Homo sapiens: one gene and its partners. The protein of the gene in region 3 purifies or fractionates together with the protein of the main gene of each other region. This does not show direct contact. Each region holds a gene or a part of one and is shown on either strand. Other genes may lie near its edges. The genes, in order: NUP188, TPP2, CILK1, MNAT1, MAST4 and IFT172.

Region 1 (3,500 bases), on a different chromosome or scaffold from region 3:
CTTAGCTGTGACAATGTCTTAGTCTTTTTTTTTTGAGATGGAGTCTCGCTTTGTGGCCCAGGCTGGAGTGCAGTGGCACGATCTCGGCTCACTGCAAGCTCTGCCTCCCGGGTTCACGCCATTCTCCTGCCTCAGCCTCCCGAGTAGCTGGGACTACAGGCGCCCGCTGTGACAATGTCTTAGTCTTTTTTTTTTTTTTTTTTTGAGATGGAGTCTCGCTCTGTGGCCCAGGCTGGAGTGCAGTGGCACGATCTCGGCTCACTGCAAGCTCTGCCTCCCGGGTTCACGCCATTCTCCTGCCTCAGCCTCCCGAGTAGCAGGGACTACAGGCGCCCGCCACCACGCCTGGCTAATTTTTTGTATTTTTAGTAGAGACAGGGTTTCACTGTGTTCGCCAGGATGGTCTCAATCTCCTGACCTCATGATCCGCCCGCCTCGGCCTCCCAAAGTGCTGGGATTACAGGCGTGAGCCACCGCGGCCGGTGACAATGTCGACAATGTCTTAGTCTTACCTTGATTTTCATGACCTTGAACAAGTTTGAGGACTGGTCAGTTATTTTGTAGTATGCCCCCAATTTGGGTTTGTCTGATGTTTTCCTTATTATTAGACTGGGGTTGTGAGTTTTTGGGAAAAATACACAGAGGTGAGGTGCTCTTCTTTTTTTTTTTTTTGAGATGGAGTTTCGCTCTTGTTGCCCATGCTCGCGTGCAATGGTGCGATTTCAGCTCACTGCAACCTTTGCCTCCTGGGTTCAAGCAATTCTGTCTCAGCCTCCCGAGTAGCTGGGACTACAGGTGCATGCCACCATGCCTGGCTAATTTTTGTATTTTTAGTAGAGACAGGGTTTCACCATATTGGTCAGGCTGGTCTTGAACTCCTGACCTCAGGTGATCCGCCCGCCTCAGCCTCCCAAAGTGCTGGGATTACAGGCGTGAGCCACCACGCCTGGCCAAGCTACCCTTCTTACCACATCATAGCAGAGAGTACATGCTGTCCACATGAAATCACTGGTAATGTTAATCTTGGTCACTCAGTTAAGGAGGCATTTGCCAAGTTTCTCCTCTGTAAAGTTACTTTTTTCTCTTTTCCTATTTTATTTTTTGGAAGTGAGTACTAAATATAGCCATGTCCAGCTAATTTTTTTCACTTTTGGTGGAGATGAGGGTCTCACTTTGTTGTCTAGGCTGGTCTCAAACTCCTGGCCTCAAGCTACACTCCTGCCTTGGCCTCCCAAAGTGCTGGGATTACAGGCATGAGCCATTGTTCTGGCCCCTCCCTATCCTATTTATTTATTCATTAGTTTATATCAGTATAGACTCAAATATATTTATTTTATTTATCTTATACTTTGTTTATACCTTGTTTCAGCTTTGGCTATTGGGCATTCTTTTAGGTTGGCCTCTGTCCTTTGGGCGTGTCCTTCCTTTTTTCTTTTTTTCTTTTCTTTTTTTTCTATTATGTCATCTCCTACCGAAAGGACTTTGGTTTCTTAAGCCCTTTTGTACTTCTTTTCACTATAAGATGCTTCAAGATTTTCTTGTATTTTCCTTGCCCTGACTCTAGAATCAACCAATTCTCCAAGGAATCCTGTTATTAGAGAATGGTATTATAAAGCAGGATCTGGGTGCTGCATGTACCTCCTGCTGTTGGAGTATTATAAATTCTAGGCCTTCTCGGTGGACAGAGCTATTACAGATAATATATTAATATATGTATGTATGCCACAGACCTGGTTTTAAATTTTAGCAACTGTTTATGAGCTGTGGGATTTTTGGTAAGTTATTTACCCTAAGTGCTGGCAATTCCATTTGTAAAAGGAGAATAGTAATATTTGCCTTTTAGGGCAGTAGTAAGGATCAAAAATAATGTAACTTAATGTGTTTACAAATAACATTGTTATAACTGTAATTTAACCACTTTTTTTTTGTTTTGTTTTGTTAGGCATAACCAGTTCTGCGTTATGAAGTTTGTAGAGGTGAATGGGTGTGTGTGTGTGTGTGTGTGTGTGTGTGCGTGTGTGTGTTTGTGTGTGTGTTTATAGGCATCTGAAGGGCAGAAAATAGTCTGTAGGAAAAATATTTTAAAATATTTTTATTTTAAACTCAGTGGGCTATTGAGAATGAAGAAATGATTCACTGTTCTTTTTGTAGTCCAAGTTCAGCTGAAAAAGTGAAAGCTAATAAAGATGTAGCTTCACCATTGAAGGAACTGGGTTTAAGAATCAGCAAGTTTTTGGTGAGTAAAAATTAGCACTCGCTCAATTTATTACTTGCAGTGTGGATGTGCGTGGTTATATTGCTAGTGATAGTGAAAATTCAGTTTCTTTTTGTTTTGGGGATTAAATTGTTTTATAAATACCCAGGTTGCAACTCTTCTCCCTAAAAGTTACAAGTCAAAGTTGCCTGATCCATTCACTGCATATCATAGGGTTTTCTTCACCAGACATGTGGTGGTCTTTAAGGTGACTAAGTTTGTCATTTTGGAAGCTCACATCATGCCTACTGCTGTATTAATGTGCTTAGTGAATAAGCATCGTTGTTTCTGGCATGTACATTTAATTGTAATAAAAATTGTATGTCAGTGACTGGCTCTTGTCTTCTATTAGAGTCAGAATTGTTATGTTTTATGAATCTTTGAGAAGCATTTTTGTTTATTCAAGTCCTGTGTTCATTGTAGAAGACAAATCTTTAAATTCTCTGCATCCTGTGTGCGATTTCTGAGCTGTTCCTTACTTAAAATCTCTGTGTTTCAGGGTCTTGATGAAGAACAGAGTGTGCAGTTACTCCAGTGTTACCTGCAAGAGGACTACAGGGGTACTCGGGACTCAGTAAAGGTTTGTGGTTTATGTCAGCTCCTTTCTTCTGCCTTTATCCTTTTTCCCTGTTGGTTTTAGATAATGTAGGATTTTGGCACCAATTCTTTTATCGGTGGTAGGTGATCAGGTACCGTCATCTTCAGGGAAGACCTACTAAAGGCTTTAAAAAAAACATGACCTGGGTGCAATGGCTTGTGCCTGTACTCCCAGCTTCTTGGGAGGCTGAGGCAGGAGGATCACTTGAGTCCAGGAGTTTGAGGCTGCAGTGAACTGTGATCGCACTACTGCACTCCAGCCTAGGCAAAAGAGTGAGACCCTATCTCTTTAAAAAGTAAAGAATATATATGCATATAAGCTGAGATCTGTCTTCATACTTGGAGGAGTGGAGAGGTCAAAGACTGACATGTTAATCATAGAATCTTGGGCTATTAGAGGTGATAAGGATTTGGTAGAGTTTCTTTTTTTTTTGAGATGGAGTTTCGCTCTGTCTCCCAGGCTGGAGTGCAATGGCGTGATCTTGGCTCACTGGAAGCTCTGTCTCCCGGGTTCACGCCATTCTCCTGCCTCAGCCTCCCAAGTAGCTGGGACTATAGGCGCCTGCCACCACGCCCGGCTAATTTTTTGTGTTTTTAGTAGAGACAGGATTTCACCGTGTTAGCCAGGATGGTCTCAATCTCCTGACCT
Region 2 (3,500 bases), on a different chromosome or scaffold from region 3:
GTCAGTATGGCTGACTACATGACACCTAAAAATGCTAGCTGGGAGCAGAACTAAGACAAAATCCCCATTACCTGGTTCTGTATTAGTGATCATTAAAAGTCCACAAGACTCCATGAATAGTCATTAAAATCTTAGATGTACCAGTAAGCTGTGAGTAACCTGTTACTTACTTTGCTGCTATAACTGCAGTGATCGGAACTCTGAAGAGCGGACCTGCGTTAGGGGATGCTATATCATAGCCACATACCTTGAAAAAAGAATCGGTAAGTGTCAATATCCATAAACAAATGTTTAAAAGAGCGGGGGAAGGTCTAAACTACTGACAGAATAAATCAATCTACTTTTAATCAAGGTCTTAACCAGAGGTTGACACCAATTTCCTGACACTAGGTCACATAATTAATAGCAAACAGCCCAAACAAATGTATAGCAACATTTGACCAGTTGAAATGGGAAAATGAGACGTCAGGTACAAAATAAGTGCATTTTAATTACTCCCAACTGAAAAATTAGCTCAAACTAGTACTACAGACAACTTTAGATGTGGAGATACTGTTGTGATACTATTCTATGCCTGGTTTACAACTATTTGTTTAACAGATGCTTTCTTCATCTGAGTACTAAAAGGTATAACTGGCTGGGTGTGGTGGTTCACACCTGTAATCCCAAAGCCCTGGGAGGCCAAGGCAGGAGGATCACTTGAGGCCAAGAGTTCAAGACAAGACTGGGCAACATAGAGAGATCCTGTCTCTACAAAAATAAAAAAATTTAGCCAGGCTTGGTGGTGCACGCCACTAGTCCTAGCTACTCAGGAGGCTAAGGTGTGAATATCACTTGAGCCCAAGAGTTCAAGGCTGCAGCGAACCACGATCACACCACTGTACTCCAGCCTGGGCAACAGAGCAAGACTCTGTCTCTTAAAACAACAACAACAACAACAACAAGCAACTGCAGCTTTGTTTAGCTGACAAAAGAAAACACCAGTTAGAGGGAGATCTAATTGAAAGGTTCTGCTGTACCTCTTCTTTCCTTTTACTTATTCATACAAGGACAAAATATGATTCTTTAGAAACTCACTGCTTAAATGAATATAGACACACCAGAAGAACTGAATAACCTGGCAGATGGATAGGTCTAGTTATTTCTTAGCAAGAAAGCAATATATTGCAAATATACTTTGGATTTTTTTTTAACCTTTTAAACATTTTAAAGAGTGAAGAAAGTAAAAATGAAGATACATCAATACCTCTGTATAATGCAATCCTTCTCTTAAGCCCCTGGGATCCACACGTATGTTTATGTGTCTACATTGATTCATGAGTTCCAAATGGCTGGGACACTGAACCCAAGATGAATTTGAAGTCAGAGCTAAATGAAGCTGAAGGGATATTTTTTCAGAGTTTTCTGGCACGAAAAAGACCAAAAATTAAAGATGAGTATTTTTTTCCTTTTTTCCATTTAAAAATGTTACATCTTTCCAAAAAAATTTAGCGACTTGGTTTGGTTGGCTGTAAAATGCATCCAAAACACAGCTTAAATAAAACAGTCAAATAATCTTCCTTACAATTTAGATTACTCATGATTCATTTATACTTTCACCAAGCACTGGTATGACCTTAAAATAAAGAGTTTAAGTGAATGTTTTCATTACTGCACACAGGTCATAGTATTCAACTGAAATGAAGACAGCCAGATAATAGCGATGATTATTTTTGTTCACACCTAATCGAGCTGCAGTTCTCCTAGACTGCTTCTACTTTTCATTCTTCAACAGAAAGCTCTGTCTTATACCTAAGTAGGTAAAGTGGAAAAGAAATTTGATATTTTATTATCCACAATTTAATAAAGCTGTGGGTCACTGAGGCTCATTCTACTGTTTTCCCTGGTAGTTTAAGATGCTAACTAAATTGCCATTGTACAAGGACCCCAAATTGCTCTAATATTTTCTCTTATGACTAAGATTTAAAATAATCATACTGTCAATTCATGTATTCTCTTCACAACACTGGCCCAAACAGCAATTCTTTATTATGATACCACTCATTCAAACAGCAAATGTGAATACGTCAGCTTACTGCCAGCCTATTACTGACCTGTGTTCTCCGGAAATACAGGTTCAATGCCAACGCCATGATCTGAAGGTGCAGCCACCTGAACAGGATCTCGGAGGTAGATGCCACGGTTATTTCCAACAGTAACAGTAAAACCTAATTTATTAGCAAATGATGTATTCTGAACGAGGTAGTCATAGGCTTTATCAACCTAGTGAAAATAATATACATGGTAAGATATAAATGGTTGGGTCAAAAAATATTTTGTTGCAAATTACCAATCAATTTGATTTCAGTTGTAAAACAAAAAGTTAGTGTCTATATTCACCTCTCAAAACTACCTAGTACCCCAACTAAGAGGACAATTCTACATTTTTAGAAACAACACCAGTCACATCTTCCACTCCACTCTATTCACACTGTTATTCTCAAGTGACCAAATTTAGGAACTAATCCCTATGCCGTTATGATTGGCCAGTTTTTGACCTCGATTTCTTTGAATTTCTAACCTCTACATGGCCTCCATCTATTACATTTCTTGATCTTAGTGCAACAGATTTGTCTTAACTACAAAATTTGTTTGTGTATCCTTTTTGCTTGTAGTTCTATGGCCATATAATCCATAATTCAGATATACTGAATCACTGTTATAAAACAAAATATTACCCAATAATATCTAAGATATTATCTCAATGATGCTTTACAACCCATTTTTCATATAGGCAACAATACCTGAATAATACCATGTCCTTGAGCAAATACTTCTATATTGTCAGCCTTCACTGCAGTGTTTTCTAGAGCTCTTCTGACTGAATGAACTGTGTAGTCAATGTTATTAGCTTTCAGACCTAAAATTAAGAAACAAAAACAAGTAGTGTAGCACTCACTATCTGAAACCTTAGCCGCCCACCAGTATGATCGATCACCTGTAGACCCTCTGGTGTTAATGTCTTGTGTTCTAACACTCATTTTAAAATCTTTTTTGAAGACCTGAACTAAACAGTCTGACTCAAACTGCTTGCATTACATGAAGGCTTCATTCCACAAAAATCACTGTGTTCTCATTATGTGGTGGGCAGAGAGACTGGTGTGGGCTTTGTGGCGTAATATAAACGTACAAAGCAGATATCTAAAAGCATGTGAATGACATTTTCTTTCAAACACTGCTGGGTTAAACAAGATGGCTGTTGGCTGTGGTGTTCAACCCAACTGTATGTTATAAACCCCAGGGGAACTCAAGCAAAAAAGATGCTGAGGTCTCATGACAGACCAATTAAATCAGAATCTCTGAGGACTGTCCCAGAGATTGTTATTTATTAAACAACTCTCAGATGATTCTAGGGTACAGCCAGGTTGGGAATTACTGTTTTATGGGAAGAATATGGAGGCCACCAATTCATAAGATGAGTGCTGTATCATTCTTGTCCTCTCCAGAGCTCATTAAACACA
Region 3 (3,500 bases):
AATGCATTTTTCTGCTTGTGGGATCTATGTGAGTGTGTGTATTTGCCTGGTGGTTCCTTGGGAGAATTCTGGATATAATGACCTCTCTGTGTATGTTGATCTGAAAGCCTGTGAATAGTATCTCATTTAACTGTTGTCTTTCACCTGTGGTCTTTGATGACTGTGGCTTTCTGAGAAGGGCCTATGTTTAGAGTATTAGAACTCTCCTATCTGTGAACCTCAGTGTTTATGGTTGATGTGGTTGAATCAGGGAGAATGCGCAAACAGAGGTGTGTGTGTGCCGGATGACTTATACACGTTTTGGGATTACAGTGTAATTGTGTCTTAGTTTGTGGTTGTGCTTACCTTTGAAATACAGTTTTAACTTCCTTATAAAAGCACATGTGTTCTAGAAAATTACCTAGTAAAAAGAATTTGGTGAAACAAATCATTTTCTGGGGCAAATTGCATTAAAATGCTAAGGAAATGTTGTGGCAGGAAGAAAATCAGAGATGCCTTTGATTGCAGCCAAAGAAGTAAAAGCAGCAGCTCAGGCCTACCTCAAGGTGGTAACCAAGGTTGATATGGGCATCTTCATTCAATCTGTCTGCTCCTAGTTAACTGCTGTCCAATATTAGGAAAAACTACTACTCAACAGGTTTTAGGGAAACACTCAACCCAAACAGAAGGCTTCTATTCCTGATTTTCTTCCAAGGAAACTGAACTATCTTTGCACATTAAGTACCTGACTCTCTGTGCTTTGAAAGTTGAAGTCTTCCTGGGTAGGAAGAGTGTCTTGTCGTGGGACTTACCTGAGCAGGCTGAAATCAAATCCAACATATGTTGACATGTGAAGTCATGTTTGAGTTTGAGGATAGCACATCTTCAAACATCTGCTCCCCCCTTTTTTTAAACTATATGGGCTCAGGATTAGCAAAATATTCATATGCTTTTTACCAAGGAGCACGTGGGGAACATTTGATACATCTTTAGTTGGCTATAAAACATGTATTATACTCACACATTTCAAAATATTCTACTCTGAAGATAGCAAGTATTCTGTTCTTCTTAGTTGGATCTCATCTGTAGAGTGAGAATGTCAAGTGATCATTAAGGTCCTTTACAGAAAAAAAAAATTCTTAACTCTATTGTCTGAAGTTTGTTCAACATTAGGCTTTGAACATAGTTCCTAATGAATTTAGCATTCAAATCTATGTTAATTAGCATTCAGTTATATTTTATCTTTAAATAAGCTCATCATGGCTGCTATAAAAGATAATGCCTCTGAACCAAAAGATAAAGTATTATAAGTGTGATGTCCAACTATATTTGACAATATCATGAAAGTAACTATCTGCGTGAACTTGTAGTTCCTAGCAGATGATTGTCATCCTAACTCACTTTTTTTGAAATGAAAGGGCCACAATAGTGCCTTGCTTTTCATTTGGTGCTTTTCCCACCATGTCAAGAACCCTTAGTAGCCACTTAATAAATGTATAACGATGGCCCAGAGCTTATGAGAACCACACGTTTTTTTAGGAGAGATCAGTGTGAGTTATTTTTTACCTTTCTATAGGTGAAGCATGACCTGTGATAAAGTATTGATAACATGTGACTGCTCTTTTGACTACCATAAAAGATAATGCCTGAGAACCGGAAAGGAAAGTACTATTGTATAATGCCCAAATACGTATTTGGCAATATCATGAAAGTTACTATCTGCATGAACTTGTGGTTCCCAAAAGATAGTTATTAATGGTTTTGCCCTCTTGGACATTGCCTTTGCTTTGAAAGAGAATTTACTAGAGAATGATTTAACTAAGACAAAGGGGAGTAAGAAAAATGTAAGATATACATGCCTTCATGTGATCTTAGCTGTTGAAAAGCAAGTTTTTTCCTAAATTAGTGTAAAAGTTTTTAGAAGGAGTCATAATTTTGGTACCCTAGTCCCAGTACAGTTGTCCAGTTTGCAAAGAAGTGGGGCGTGACGGGATGACAGTGAGGGTGGACGTGGTAGTATAGGAAAATCATCTATGGTCAGGATTGCCTTTTAAAGCTCCATAAGTTGTTCATTCATTAGTTAATTCATTGAACATGTCTTTATTGTGAGTCCGTACTTGTGCCAACTATGCCAGTTCTCTGGGAACTGAGTACTGGGAATACAGTTGTGAATATTGCAACGTTTCTGACCTCACAGAGCTTATATTCTAAGGTTAAACACAGCTTGTATGTAGCCCTGTAACCTAGGGGTAAGTGAGGGCTCTATGGAGAGTACTAAAGTGCTTCTGCTTATTTGGGGGATTTCCTCATCTTCAGGGCTTGACAAACTATGGCTTGTGTGCCAGTCCTTCCTGCTGCCTGTTTTTGTAAATAAATTTGTACTGGAACACAGCCATGCCCATGTATTTACATATTGTCTTTGACTGCTTTCATGCTACAATGGCAGAGTGGAGTTGTGACGGAGATGGAGAGCCTGCAAAGCCTATCCTGTTTACTGACCCTTCACAGAAAAAACGTGCTTATCCCTGCCCTATTTTATTTTTACATTAAGCCTTTACTTCCTTTAATTCATTTTGATTTTTTGTATACATGCTAGCAAAGCATCTTACACTGAGATCAGCTCCTTAGTCAAATGTGTTGTAATAGCATATAAATACTGATAACATGTGGCTGTCCTTGTAACTACCGTAAAAGATAATGCGTTAGAACCAGAAAGGTAAAGTATTATTGTGTAACGTCCAGCTACTTATTTGCCAGTATCATGAAAGTTACTATCTACATGAACTTGTGATATGCTCTTAGTCACTCCCCTATCTTCACTATCCCTTATCTTGCCCACCCCTGAAACACAGGCAAGCAGGACTATTGCCACCCTCGGCAGTTTTCATTAAGCTGGGGACTCTCGTTCTAGCTCATCTACAGTTTCACACATGGCAGGGTAAAGGTTTGTTTTTCTGGCTGTTTTTTTATTTTTTATTTTTTTTAACATTTCGCCTTTACTTCAGTTCTTTACAGTCCACCAAAGCCAACTATGTGTCCTAGTTTAAAAATCATCTGCAAGTGATTGAAGAACTTTTTTAAGGTTCAAGGCGTGAGCACCTTTTATATTGTAAGAGAAGCGACAGGGAGTTATGGAAGCTTCTCATGGGATTAAGGACCTAGTGCAGGACGAGTTCTTTTTTCAGAAGCTGGGATTGAAAGAGGAGAGGGATGGTAAAGGTATGAAGAAGTTTCTGGGGCACAGAAGAAGGCACATCATGTAACGGATTATCTTCTCTTGTTAACATCCAGTTGATGCAATAGCTGAATGCATCTTTAATTCACTCCTCTGTCAAGGTAAAGACAAAGCAAGATCCATGTAAAGAAGGTCCTTTTGGCTTTGTAACTGCTATTCCTTATGCAGAAAAAAAGCAGTAGTCCAAGAGGCAAAATGCTTAAAAGGTTTGCTTGCTAAAATGTACAGAGGCAGAAGAATTAGGTCCAGGAGAAAAACATAAACCCGGATATACTATTTCTAGTAC
Region 4 (3,500 bases), on a different chromosome or scaffold from region 3:
TAGCATATTACCCGTGGGAAGTGAGATACAGAACACAATGAAGTAGAACTTTGAGTTATTTTTCTATATAATTCTATATTTTATAAGCTTTAAAGAAAAAATATTCTTTTCACAGTTAAAATTAGAAATGGAAAATGTTACGTAGGAAAATAAACTGCAATAAAAAATTTTAATACTATTTAAATTATTATGACAAGGCAGATTATAAAAAGTGGAGATGTACAACTGATTTTGGAAACAATATATTATGTCTAATATACAATATAACGTTTAGAAATATTAATGTTCTATATTACCTTGCTGACTAAACTATTGATTGAGTCTAATCTCCAAGACCTTGAGATATATTAATGTTATTTGTGGCTCTGTAATTTTGACTATTTTGGATAGATGCTTACTTATAAATATCTTTAGTTAGTATAGTTGTAAAGTTTGCCTGTTTTCACCTTCCATGGATGGGTTTAATTTCCTCTAACCACAAAGAATAGTGAAAATGCACCACTCTGAAACTTCCTAAGTCCAGAGTGGTTTATCTGGGGTTTAGTTGATCTTGCTAATGACACTATGATCTTTGGAATTTTTCCCTGTTATTTTTTAGTGACACTATTAAGATAGAAATATAGGCCAGGAGTGGTGGCTCATGCCTATAATCCCAGAACCTTGGGAGGTCAAGGCAGGAGGATCGCTTGAGCCCAGGAGTTCGAGACCAGCCTGAGCAACATGGGGAGTCCCAGTCTCTACAAAAAAATAAAAAAATTAGCAGAGCGTGACAGTGTGTGCTTGTTATCCCAGCTACTGAGGAGCCTGATGTAGGACGATTGCCTGAATCTGGGAGGGCAAGGCTGCAGAGAGCTGTGACAACTTCACTGCATTCTCAAAAAAAAAAAAAAAAAAAAAAAAATATATATATATATATATAAAATAGGTATATATATACATATGTGTGTATATATATGTCTGTGTGTGTATGTATATATTTAAAGATCAATGTTAGTATTTTACTAATAACCTTAAAAATTCTTATTTTTCTTATTACTTTTCTTATTTAGCTTATTCTGTAAGTTAAATACACACTTGGAAGAAATCAACTCTTCCCTATTCATTAGAATTTCTCTTTTTCCCTTTGTCTTGTATTCATTTTTTTGTTTTGTGAAGTTTACTTAGTGAGTACTTAGCGTTAGGCACTGCGGATAGAGAACAAGATAGGCAACATTCTGTCTTTATGAAATATACTGTACTTCCTTGTCTAGGAGACAGAACACAGAAATAAATAAGATGATGTCAGATATTGCCAACAAAAGGAGTGATTAGGACTGTGTGGTCCTAACACATATGGAATTGGGCAAGATTACACCTGGAGGACTACAAATGTTTAAATATTTATCAAAACATTCGAATATTTAAAAGTTATAAATCAAGCCACATCCTTGGCCCAGCCTGATTTCCTACACAGCATGTTGAGTTGCCAGCAGCCTATACCCTCAAGACTCAGAGGCTAAAGGAACTGCTCTCTCCTCCCATCCATCTTTGTAACCTGCCTGACTGAGTGGTAGTATGGATCTGTTGGGGTAGGGCAGGGATGATTGGGGTGGTACCTAGACCCATCTAAAACAGTATATTAACAGATCCCACCAAGTCCCCAGGAATCTGGTTATAGAGAGGTTTGCCTCTCCAGTTCATTGTTTTTTCAACTCAAGTCTTCTAGGAAGTTGTAAGCCCTTCTTAATGTTGCACTACCAGAAAAGGGGATGCAGGTATCTGGGAAACCTGGCTTGCCTGGGAATTCGGTTTGCTTTATTTGGGGCAACGAACTTTAACCGAATAAAGCTTTTATAAGCAGCCACTCTTTCTGGGATTTCTCATGGCAGAAGTTGTGTTCATTTTCTCCCTCACACATACTGGAGCGCTCAAAGTTCTTTATCCTCTGGCCAGTGAGGCCTCATTCAGCTAGCACCTCTTTCTTGTAATTGTCATTTGCTCAGTTGATTACTGAACTTTCAAAAGACATTCTTACAAGGAAAGGAAGAAAAAAACATCTGTTTTAGTGCTTGGGGTATATAGGGCTCTCTAAAGAGCAGGCCCCTGGCAGAGGCTTCTCTTGCCCAGGTCTATGGATGATATTGGGACTGGGGATGGAGGTGACCATACAGTAGCCTTTTACATGCTCTTTGACTTCTCCCTATCCTGCTCTTCTTCCTAGTCTCTCACTCAATTTGTTTTAATTTATAAATTTGTTTGATCTGTAAAACTAAACTGGTATCACTTGGGATACCTATATCTGAAAAGTAAGCTCCAAATGAAAAAGAACATTTTCCAGAAAGTTTTTTGGTAAGATTTTAAATAGAAGTGACTAGTTTTCAAGTCTCACTCTCCTTATCCCATAGGGGCAAACTATTCAGATGTGTTGTAGATTTGAACATTGGCTTAAATGTTATGTTTTATTTCTGTCCTTACAGCTGTGAAAGTTGTGTAGATTTACTGTTTGTGAGAGGAGCTGGAAACTGCCCTGAGTGTGGTACTCCACTCAGAAAGAGCAACTTCAGGGTACAACTCTTTGAAGATCCCACTGTTGACAAGGAGGTTGAGATCAGGAAAAAAGTGCTAAAGATGTAAGTATTCCTGCTCGAATGATTCAGTCAACAAAGAGGACTTTAACAATTATGTCAGTAATTGATTATTATTTGCTCATAAATGTGGACAGATTAGCAAGTAAATAACTATAAATTCATTTAAGTTCTTAGAGAACTGAGTAATATTATTTATCTTTGTTAAAGAAGAGCCTCTTGATTGATGGCTTCATTATTCATTTGTATTTATTCTTTGATTAATAAACATGTATTGAGTACCTACTATGTATTGAGTACCTACTATGTGTAAACACTACTATGTGTAAACATGTTATGCATGTTAAGCAGTAGTTATGAAGTGATGAGTAAAACAGCTATGAACTCTGTCCTCATGAGACTTACCATACAGTAGCATAGGATAGCAAAAAGACAAAAAAACAAGTAAACCAAAACAAATGTTATTTATTATAGATTGAGAATAGTGCTATATAGTTAGTGACTCAGTGTTGCTGTGGTCAATGATGTCAGGTGTGGGCAGAGGAGGTAACATTAAGTTGAAGTTTGAAGGCTATTAGAGAAAATTACGTGTTAGCTATAGTTTATTTTGGTATGTGTATTTTTGTGTATATAGATATACACACATGGGCATAGTAAATATATGTGTGTATATATGTATATATATACCTATATATTATTAATCTGTCTTTTTCATTTACAATTTAGGCTTTACTCTTTACTCTTTGTTAATAGTTTTGGGTTTCCTTTTATCTGTTATTATGAGAAATAATTGATATGTTTATTTTTATTTTTGGTGGTATACATTTCAACCCAGGTAACCAGTGTTTTAGCAGCATCTTTCTAGGTACATAACCAATAATACTTTATCAATCCGCCTAGCGGCTCTTTTATTGTTTGTATAACTTCTGCAAGGTA
Region 5 (3,500 bases), on a different chromosome or scaffold from region 3:
GCCCGGGGCTTACCTGACAGGGTGGAGCTGCTGATGGTGCTGGCTGGGGTGGTGACCTCAGGCTCCTCCTGGGCACACTCTTCAGGAGGAAGGGCTGGCTTTCCTGGCTCCTCATGGGGGTCTCCAGGGCAGGAGGCAGCTTCATCTTGCTCTCCCTCTGTTGAAATAGCCAGTTTGGGAAGTAGGCCAGAACTGAGTTTATGTCTGTTGCTTTCAGTATCTGAAGAGTTGGATGTTGATAGCTGTTGCCTTAATTAAAAGCAAAAACAAAGTCATATATACATACTAGAAAACTGTGTTAAAGGTGAATTTTGGAAGAAACCAGGTGAAAATCGGACTTGGATAAGCCTAACCAAGAGATGTCTAGTGCAATGGTTCTTAATGTGTGGTACCCACAGCAGCAACATCTGCATAATCTAGATACTTGTCAGAAATGCACATTTTCAGGCCCTACCCTAGATCTACTGGATGAGAAACTCTGGAAGTGGGAGATCTGTGTTTTAACAAGCCCCCCAGGTATTCTGATGCTCACTAAAGTTTAAGAAACTCTGCTCTAGTAGCTACTGCTTATATTACTTAAGAGGCATTTCACATACATTTCAGAATATTCTGAACTCCAGCTCAGTGTTTCTGTGGATGGCAAGGTGGTGCTTTTGGTTTTGTCCACAGAGTCTTCCTTCTCTTCTGCTGAATTCTGAGTGATTCGATCTATACTGCTGAAAACCTGGAAGGCAAATAATTGGTGCTTATTAATATCTACTAAAAAGAGTTTGTCAGAAAAACACTCCAAGTCTTGGGAGAAAAACCTGAGAGGATAACTAAATTCTGAACTAATATTGTGTATTCAGAAAGTACTTTCCAGTGTTGTTAACCAGAATCCAGAGAGGAAGGGTCAGGGTGAGTGAGTGTGTGTGTGTGTGTGTGTGTGTGTGTGTACATATATACGAATAGGGAGCTATGAATTCATCATCCTCTCATCATATCTTGTTGCGGACTTTGTATCTGCAAACAAAATCCACAGATGCAGTGGAGTTTCTAGGCCTTGGGATCAATGCACATCTTGATTACTTTTTAACCATGAAGTCAACTGGAAAAAGAAAATAACAGAGAAACAGATTTAATGGCCACCAGTCAGGGGTGGGAAGAAGAAAAATGAATTGGAATTGAGTGCAAACAGAAGAATAAATTATCTGTTTCAAGACTGGGTGGTGGTGTGGCAAGGATGCAGTACATATTCCGTTATAAGAGCCAGAGGTATTTGTTTCGCTTACAAATCACATCTATAGACAGGCAGTTTCCTATGTTGGTGCCGGGGTTCCTGAAGGGGATCGGAGCTCAGGTAAGCCCAAGGTCTCAGCTATCTGTGAATCTCTGTTGTCTCATAAGAGAGAAGGTAAAATGGGGGTCTAAGAGCCTAGGGCAGGAAGCGCTCCCTACTGCCCTGCTCAGACACTTGCTGCTCTCATGGGAATGGTCCTCAGGCCTCCTATAATCTACTAGGAATAGCAGGAAAGTGGCTACAGAAAAGGAGATGGTGGGAAAATGAAATACCCACCAAGGCAAAGAAGGAAGCAGTGTTTAGGGGTTGGCATTGTTGTCTTTGATGGCCCAGAGAACAGTCCTGGTCTGAGTCCACACTTAGCAAAGCTTCTGTCCTGGCTCTAGGACAGACTGGCTACCACCTTCTCCAGGGAAATCCTTACCTCGATGCCATTCCCATACACAGGAGGGTAGTGCTGGCCAATTTGCAGGTGCATCTAGGTAATCATTTAGAAAAAGCTACGGAGCACTTTAAAATCACTAAATGTTATAGAAAAGCTAAACAATAATCATGCAAAATGCCATGGCAACAGAAAATATATAGCTACTGAAAATAGCAAAAGGGAGGTAGGGTGCCCTCAGGTTGATTTCCGTTTTTCCTAGGGCCTTGTTCTGTCTCAGTACTATCAGTTTTCTTTGTTTTGATTAATTGTTTTTTTTAACTTTTACTGTACTGGTAAAAAGGCATCTTTCTCAAGCATCAATTATCTAAATGATTCTAGCTTGGCTTCCTACTGCCTTTTCAATATGGCTTATAATTTCTGTTTATTGGTTACAAGACTTTTTTTTTTTTTTGGCTTTTTTTTTCCTTTTTGTGGAGAACGGGGTCTCACTATATTGCCCGGGCTGGTCTTGAACTGCTGGGCTTACGCTATCTTCTTGCCTCTGCCTCTCTAAGTGCTGAGATTAGAGGCGTGAGCCACTATGCCTGGCAGTTATGAGACTTTACAATCCTACAGTCAACTGTCCGCAGGTATCTTTGCTTATGTCAAGGACTGAGCCTTCTCCTTTTGTTGTACTCTGTGTAATCCCTCGGAGATGACTCTGTACACAGTGAAGCTCGCGCTCTTCATCCTGAGTTGAAAGCAATGAGTGATACCTCTGCAGCCTGGCATTGAGCCAGGTGAGAGACGTTCAAGGCAAGGTCATCATATAAGTAGCAGTCACACACTCCAAAAACAAGACTGTGGGTGCAAGGCTATGCCTCTAAGAAAACAATATCTTAATTTGTGGAGAGAGAAATATATTGGTGCCGGGGTTCCTGAAGGGGATCAGAGCTCAGGTAAGCCCAAGGTCTCAGCTATCTGAATCTCTGTTGTCTCACAGGAAAGAGAGAAGGTAAAATGGCAGTCTAAAGGCCTAGGGGATAGGGACAGACTATAAGTTGAGGAGGTCACTTTTCTTCAACAAAAGGAAGTTTAAGCATAGGAGACCTCAAACCCTGGAAAACGGTAAGTGTCCAGCTGTTCGGGGATACTATCTGGCCAGCGGGAGATCCTCCCAGAGAGACTCTGTATGTTTATGCCACATTTCACTTACTTTTGAAAACCTGTGTGAACATGAAGAAAACTGCCTTATTTCCACATTAAAGTCTTCATCATTTGTGTCATCTTCTTCCTCCGTTTCCATATGATGATACTTCTCAGACCGAGCTGCAGTGAAATGTTTGGGAACAGGTCCAATTACTCAGATTTTCAACATTTAGATATTTTAATTATGATTTTCTGGATCAACATTATGTTTAAGAACTCAGAGATATGAAAAGGTTCAAAAGCAAAGATAATTATTTATCGAGTAAAGGCCAAACAATGTTTTATGTCAGATAAAGCACATACTATCAAAATAACTTGTGTCATCCTCAGATTCCAGTTGGGGAATAAATTCTGCCTTCTGTCTCAGCAAACTGTTCCAGTCTAAAGAACGGAAGAATCGATGCTGTTTGACTTCATATGCACCACCTGGAAGGGGGCAGGTAGAGACAGAGAGGAAAGTGTTAAACTATCCCCACTAAGCAAAGGCAAACATCAGTTTTTAACAACAATTTTGAGAACATATCAGCAAAGAAATACAGACATGAAAATCATACTTTTTCATTCTACAACCAAAGCCCCACAAGTTTTTCTGATAATTTATCAGTAGGAGATTTGATGTTGCTAACAGCAGTTGCTATGGCACTGTTT
Region 6 (3,500 bases), on a different chromosome or scaffold from region 3:
CCAGAATTGGGCAAAGCGATAAAGCAGGAGGATCAGCAAAGATTGATGAGGAGCCCTCAGGCCTTCTAACCTAATATAATGAAGAGTTAGAGGATCATAGTGATGGTGGTGTGGCTATTTTCTGGTTTGAGGATTTGCAGGAAAATAGACTTTTTACTTCTGACTTTGGAGATAGGTGAGTTTGGAGTGTAAAGTGTCAATGTTTGAAGCCAGAACTCTAGTGTCCAAATAATTAAACAATTGGGGCAGAAGAAAAGCAGAATAAAATGTTTTGTTTTCAAGGAAGGAAACCCTTAGTAGCAGAGCTAGTCCCTTAGGACCAGAGCTAGTGTTGGAAGGGTCAGATCTGGTCAGAATAATTCACCTGGAGATAACTTCTAACTTGGGTTTCTCTGAAGTGGGTAGTTAAGAAGAAAAGAAAGTGGGATTATTCGTCCTGAGTCTCAACTCGTACTCGCCCATCCTGAACTCTCACTGTCTCTCCCTTTCCTTTCAAATAAGCCCAAACTCCTTTGCCTGGCTTCAAAGACTTCCTGAGCTGGCCTGTTTTTCCTGCCTTACCCCGTCTATTCTACTATTTATAAGGTATAATAGTTTCAAATAAACTAAATTACTGTTTCTTGTCCAGAATTTGCCTTTGCTCATTGCCATTCCTCCCATCTCAGATAACTTCCTACTCAACTGCATTCATTCTTCAAAGCTTAATTTTGATAATTTAAGCATAAAATTCTCTCAGGCTTCTCCAAACTATTGTAGTACTTTATACATACTTTAATAGGACTTTTCTATTTTGCACCATCTTATTAGACGTGGAGGCAGGATCTATGGTTTGCTTTTTGTCTCTCTCTCAGCCCCTGGCCAAGTGCCTTGATCAATAAGGTGCTAAAAAAATATTAATTGAATGAATGGCTAATGACCAAAACTTACCAGACTAATTGAATTTATTTCAGTAGCAGACCTGGAAACGAGGAGGCCGTTGCAGGGATTCATTGATACAGTTGACTTAGCACCCTGCCTCTTAGTGCATTTGCATATGAGTCTCTAGAAGCCTGTTGTTCTCACAGTCCAGGATCTGAAGGCCTTGGAGACCAGCATGGGCCACAGGCATCTCTTTGTTTTGAGGATAGAACCGTGACAGGAAGAAAATTGACCAGTATTACACTAGAATTAATGAAGCTAGAAATGCTTTTGGCATTCTAGACCAGCACATGGGTTTGTTTTTACCCCTTTGCCTCTACAGGATGGAGCTGCAAAGGTGACCTGCATGGCTTGGTCCCAGAACAATGCCAAATTTGCTGTCTGCACAGTGGACCGAGTGGTCTTGCTGTATGATGAACATGGAGAACGGAGAGATAAATTCTCCACCAAACCAGCTGACATGAAGGTAAACAGTGTATTCATGTGTACCTTATTTAACCTATTGATGGGGTCTCACAACTTGAAAGACGTAGTCTGCCTTCTAGCCATCAGCATAGGAAATGGCATACCCCACCTTTTTCTCAGTATAAATCCTCAAGCTCCCTTAGGAGCACACATATGCCTTTTTTTCTCTTTTCTCTTTCATGTGTACTCATTACTTCTTTTTCTTTCTTTTTTTTTTTTTAAACTCTTAGTATGGCAGGAAGAGCTATATGGTGAAGGGCATGGCTTTTTCTCCTGATTCCACTAAAATTGCCATAGGACAGACTGACAACATCATCTATGTCTACAAGATTGGAGAAGATTGGTGAGGATAGAGACTGGGAGATGGGATGGCCCAGGAAAGAAGGGGAAGGCAAGAGAAATGCCTCACTGGGGAGGGGAAATACAGGGGATGAGAAGCCAAGCTTGGCCATTGAAGGCAGAGACTTTCTGGAGTCTGTTTTTGCTTTTCTGCCTTCACCTGTCCCACGTGTTCTTCAATCCCATCCCTGGAGGAAACAGTCCAAGGTCAACAGGAGGCCCTGTGAGATCCTGGAAGCCCAGAGTGATGTCACATCTTTGTTATTGTTCTGAAGCTGCTTAGGCTCCCTCATATACCTCCTTTCAGGGCTCCTACAGAGTAGTCAGAAATACTACTGGGCCAGGGAAGAAATCTGCTCTTTCTTCTCTTCCCTCAGCATCATTTTTGGCAATTTGTTTATGGAAGTGGTATTTATTTATTTATTTATTTTGAGATAGAGTCTCACTCTGTCACCCAGGCTGGAGTGCAGTGGCGCGATTGTGGCTCACTGCAAGCTCCTCCTCCCAGGTTCACGCAATTCTCCTGCCTCAGCCTCCCGAGTAGCTGGGACTACAGGCGCCCACCACCACACCCGGCTAATTTTTTGTATTTTTAGTAGAGACGGGGTTTCACTGTGTTAGCCAGGATGGTCTCGATCTCCTGACCTCATGATCCTCCCGCCTCGGCCTCCCAAAGTGCTGGGATTACAGGCATGAGCCACCACGCCCGGCCTGGAAGTGGTTTTTAATATGTTTCCCCTTCTTTTGTTTGGCAGGGGTGACAAGAAAGTCATCTGCAACAAGTTCATCCAGACGGTAAAGTTCAGACCAGTCCCTGGAACCTTAGGATGAACAAACATATATCAGTATATCTACTTATAAATACAGCCAGGAGTTGCATTTCTAACATCTGAATGTGACTTTTCCTACTGCAAGGATGGTGCTTCATGGCTGTTCATGGTCATCTGCTGTCTTCCTTAGAGCCCTGCTGTGTCCTTCCCTATAGGAGATTGAGGTGGTGGTGTGTGGTGGGGTGTTGAAGTTGTTATAAAAGTGCTGGCCCACACAGATGGGGTTATCCTTTTCATTGTTTCCTTCCACGCAGAGTGCTGTCACTTGTCTGCAATGGCCGGCAGAATACATCATTGTCTTTGGACTGGCTGAAGGGAAGGTAAAAGAGGGAAGGGAAACACAAGAGAGGGGGTGGTAGGGATAATGGTTCTGGAGAGAGGAATATGGTTCATCCTCTTTCTTAGGATCAAGTTGCGTACTGGGGAGAATGCATAGGGACCAGTTTTGTGGGACAGTTTTTCCTTTTTTTCTTAGGGCCTAGTTAAATATAAAATAGCCTAACCATACTTGTATCAATTTTTCCATTTTCAGGTTCGTTTAGCAAACACCAAAACTAATAAATCATCTACCATCTATGGGACAGAGTCTTACGTGGTGTCCCTGACAACAAAGTGAGTAAAGAGGAGTAGTATCACTAGAGTCTGGAAGTGTTAGGAAAATGCTGTGGGGAAGTCTGGACTGCAAGACCATAGTATGAAAGGCAGGAGAACTGGTAGCAGGAAGCACAGACAAGGTTGTGTTTGACAGAGAAAGGGGCTTTCTTGGTGAGATAAAATAGTCTCTTCCTGTATTTCTCTCCTTTCTCCTTTTTTAGTTGCTCTGGGAAAGGAATTCTCTCTGGTCATGCAGATGGTACCATCGTTAGGTATTTCTTTGATGATGAAGGCTCTGGAGAGTCACAGGTATGAATAAAGAATGTTGTGGGAGGCTTGGATTGCTTGAGTCCA

What was found.
Region 1: the proteins of CILK1 (region 3) and NUP188 purify together in Homo sapiens (affinity purification with mass spectrometry; one large-scale study listed by BioGRID and IntAct). This does not show direct contact.
Region 2: the proteins of CILK1 (region 3) and TPP2 purify together in Homo sapiens (affinity purification with mass spectrometry; one large-scale study listed by BioGRID and IntAct). This does not show direct contact.
Region 4: the proteins of CILK1 (region 3) and MNAT1 purify together in Homo sapiens (affinity purification with western blotting, with the first as the bait; one study listed by BioGRID). This does not show direct contact.
Region 5: the proteins of CILK1 (region 3) and MAST4 purify together in Homo sapiens (affinity purification with mass spectrometry; one large-scale study listed by BioGRID and IntAct). This does not show direct contact.
Region 6: the proteins of CILK1 (region 3) and IFT172 purify together in Homo sapiens (affinity purification with mass spectrometry, with the first as the bait; one large-scale study listed by BioGRID). This does not show direct contact.

Annotation. Positions count from the first base shown.
Region 1 is NC_000009.12:128,954,199-128,957,698, forward strand, and holds part of NUP188 (nucleoporin NUP188), read left to right. Parts: intron 1-2,151; coding exon 2,152-2,236; intron 2,237-2,753; coding exon 2,754-2,834; intron 2,835-3,500. UniProt on the Homo sapiens protein: Component of the nuclear pore complex (NPC), a complex required for the trafficking across the nuclear envelope. Required for proper protein transport into the nucleus.
Region 2 is NC_000013.11:102,634,986-102,638,485, reverse strand, and holds part of TPP2 (tripeptidyl-peptidase 2), read right to left. Parts: intron 2,900-3,500; coding exon 2,784-2,899; intron 2,263-2,783; coding exon 2,094-2,262; intron 1,405-2,093; coding exon 1,247-1,404; intron 248-1,246; coding exon 171-247; intron 1-170. UniProt on the Homo sapiens protein: Cytosolic tripeptidyl-peptidase that releases N-terminal tripeptides from polypeptides and is a component of the proteolytic cascade acting downstream of the 26S proteasome in the ubiquitin-proteasome pathway.
Region 3 is NC_000006.12:53,055,325-53,058,824, reverse strand, and holds part of CILK1 (serine/threonine-protein kinase ICK), read left to right. Parts: intron 1-3,500.
Region 4 is NC_000014.9:60,793,761-60,797,260, forward strand, and holds part of MNAT1 (CDK-activating kinase assembly factor MAT1), read left to right. Parts: intron 1-2,456; coding exon 2,457-2,609; intron 2,610-3,500.
Region 5 is NC_000005.10:67,141,893-67,145,392, reverse strand, and holds part of MAST4 (microtubule-associated serine/threonine-protein kinase 4), read right to left. Parts: intron 3,279-3,500; coding exon 3,156-3,278; intron 2,973-3,155; coding exon 2,860-2,972; intron 725-2,859; coding exon 597-724; intron 250-596; coding exon 14-249; intron 1-13.
Region 6 is NC_000002.12:27,483,244-27,486,743, reverse strand, and holds part of IFT172 (intraflagellar transport protein 172 homolog), read left to right. Parts: intron 1-501; exon of another isoform or gene 502-585; intron 586-1,240; coding exon 1,241-1,384; intron 1,385-1,613; coding exon 1,614-1,726; intron 1,727-2,477; coding exon 2,478-2,517; intron 2,518-2,577; exon of another isoform or gene 2,578-2,716; intron 2,717-2,806; coding exon 2,807-2,872; intron 2,873-3,084; coding exon 3,085-3,164; intron 3,165-3,367; coding exon 3,368-3,455; intron 3,456-3,500. UniProt on the Homo sapiens protein: Required for the maintenance and formation of cilia. Plays an indirect role in hedgehog (Hh) signaling, cilia being required for all activity of the hedgehog pathway.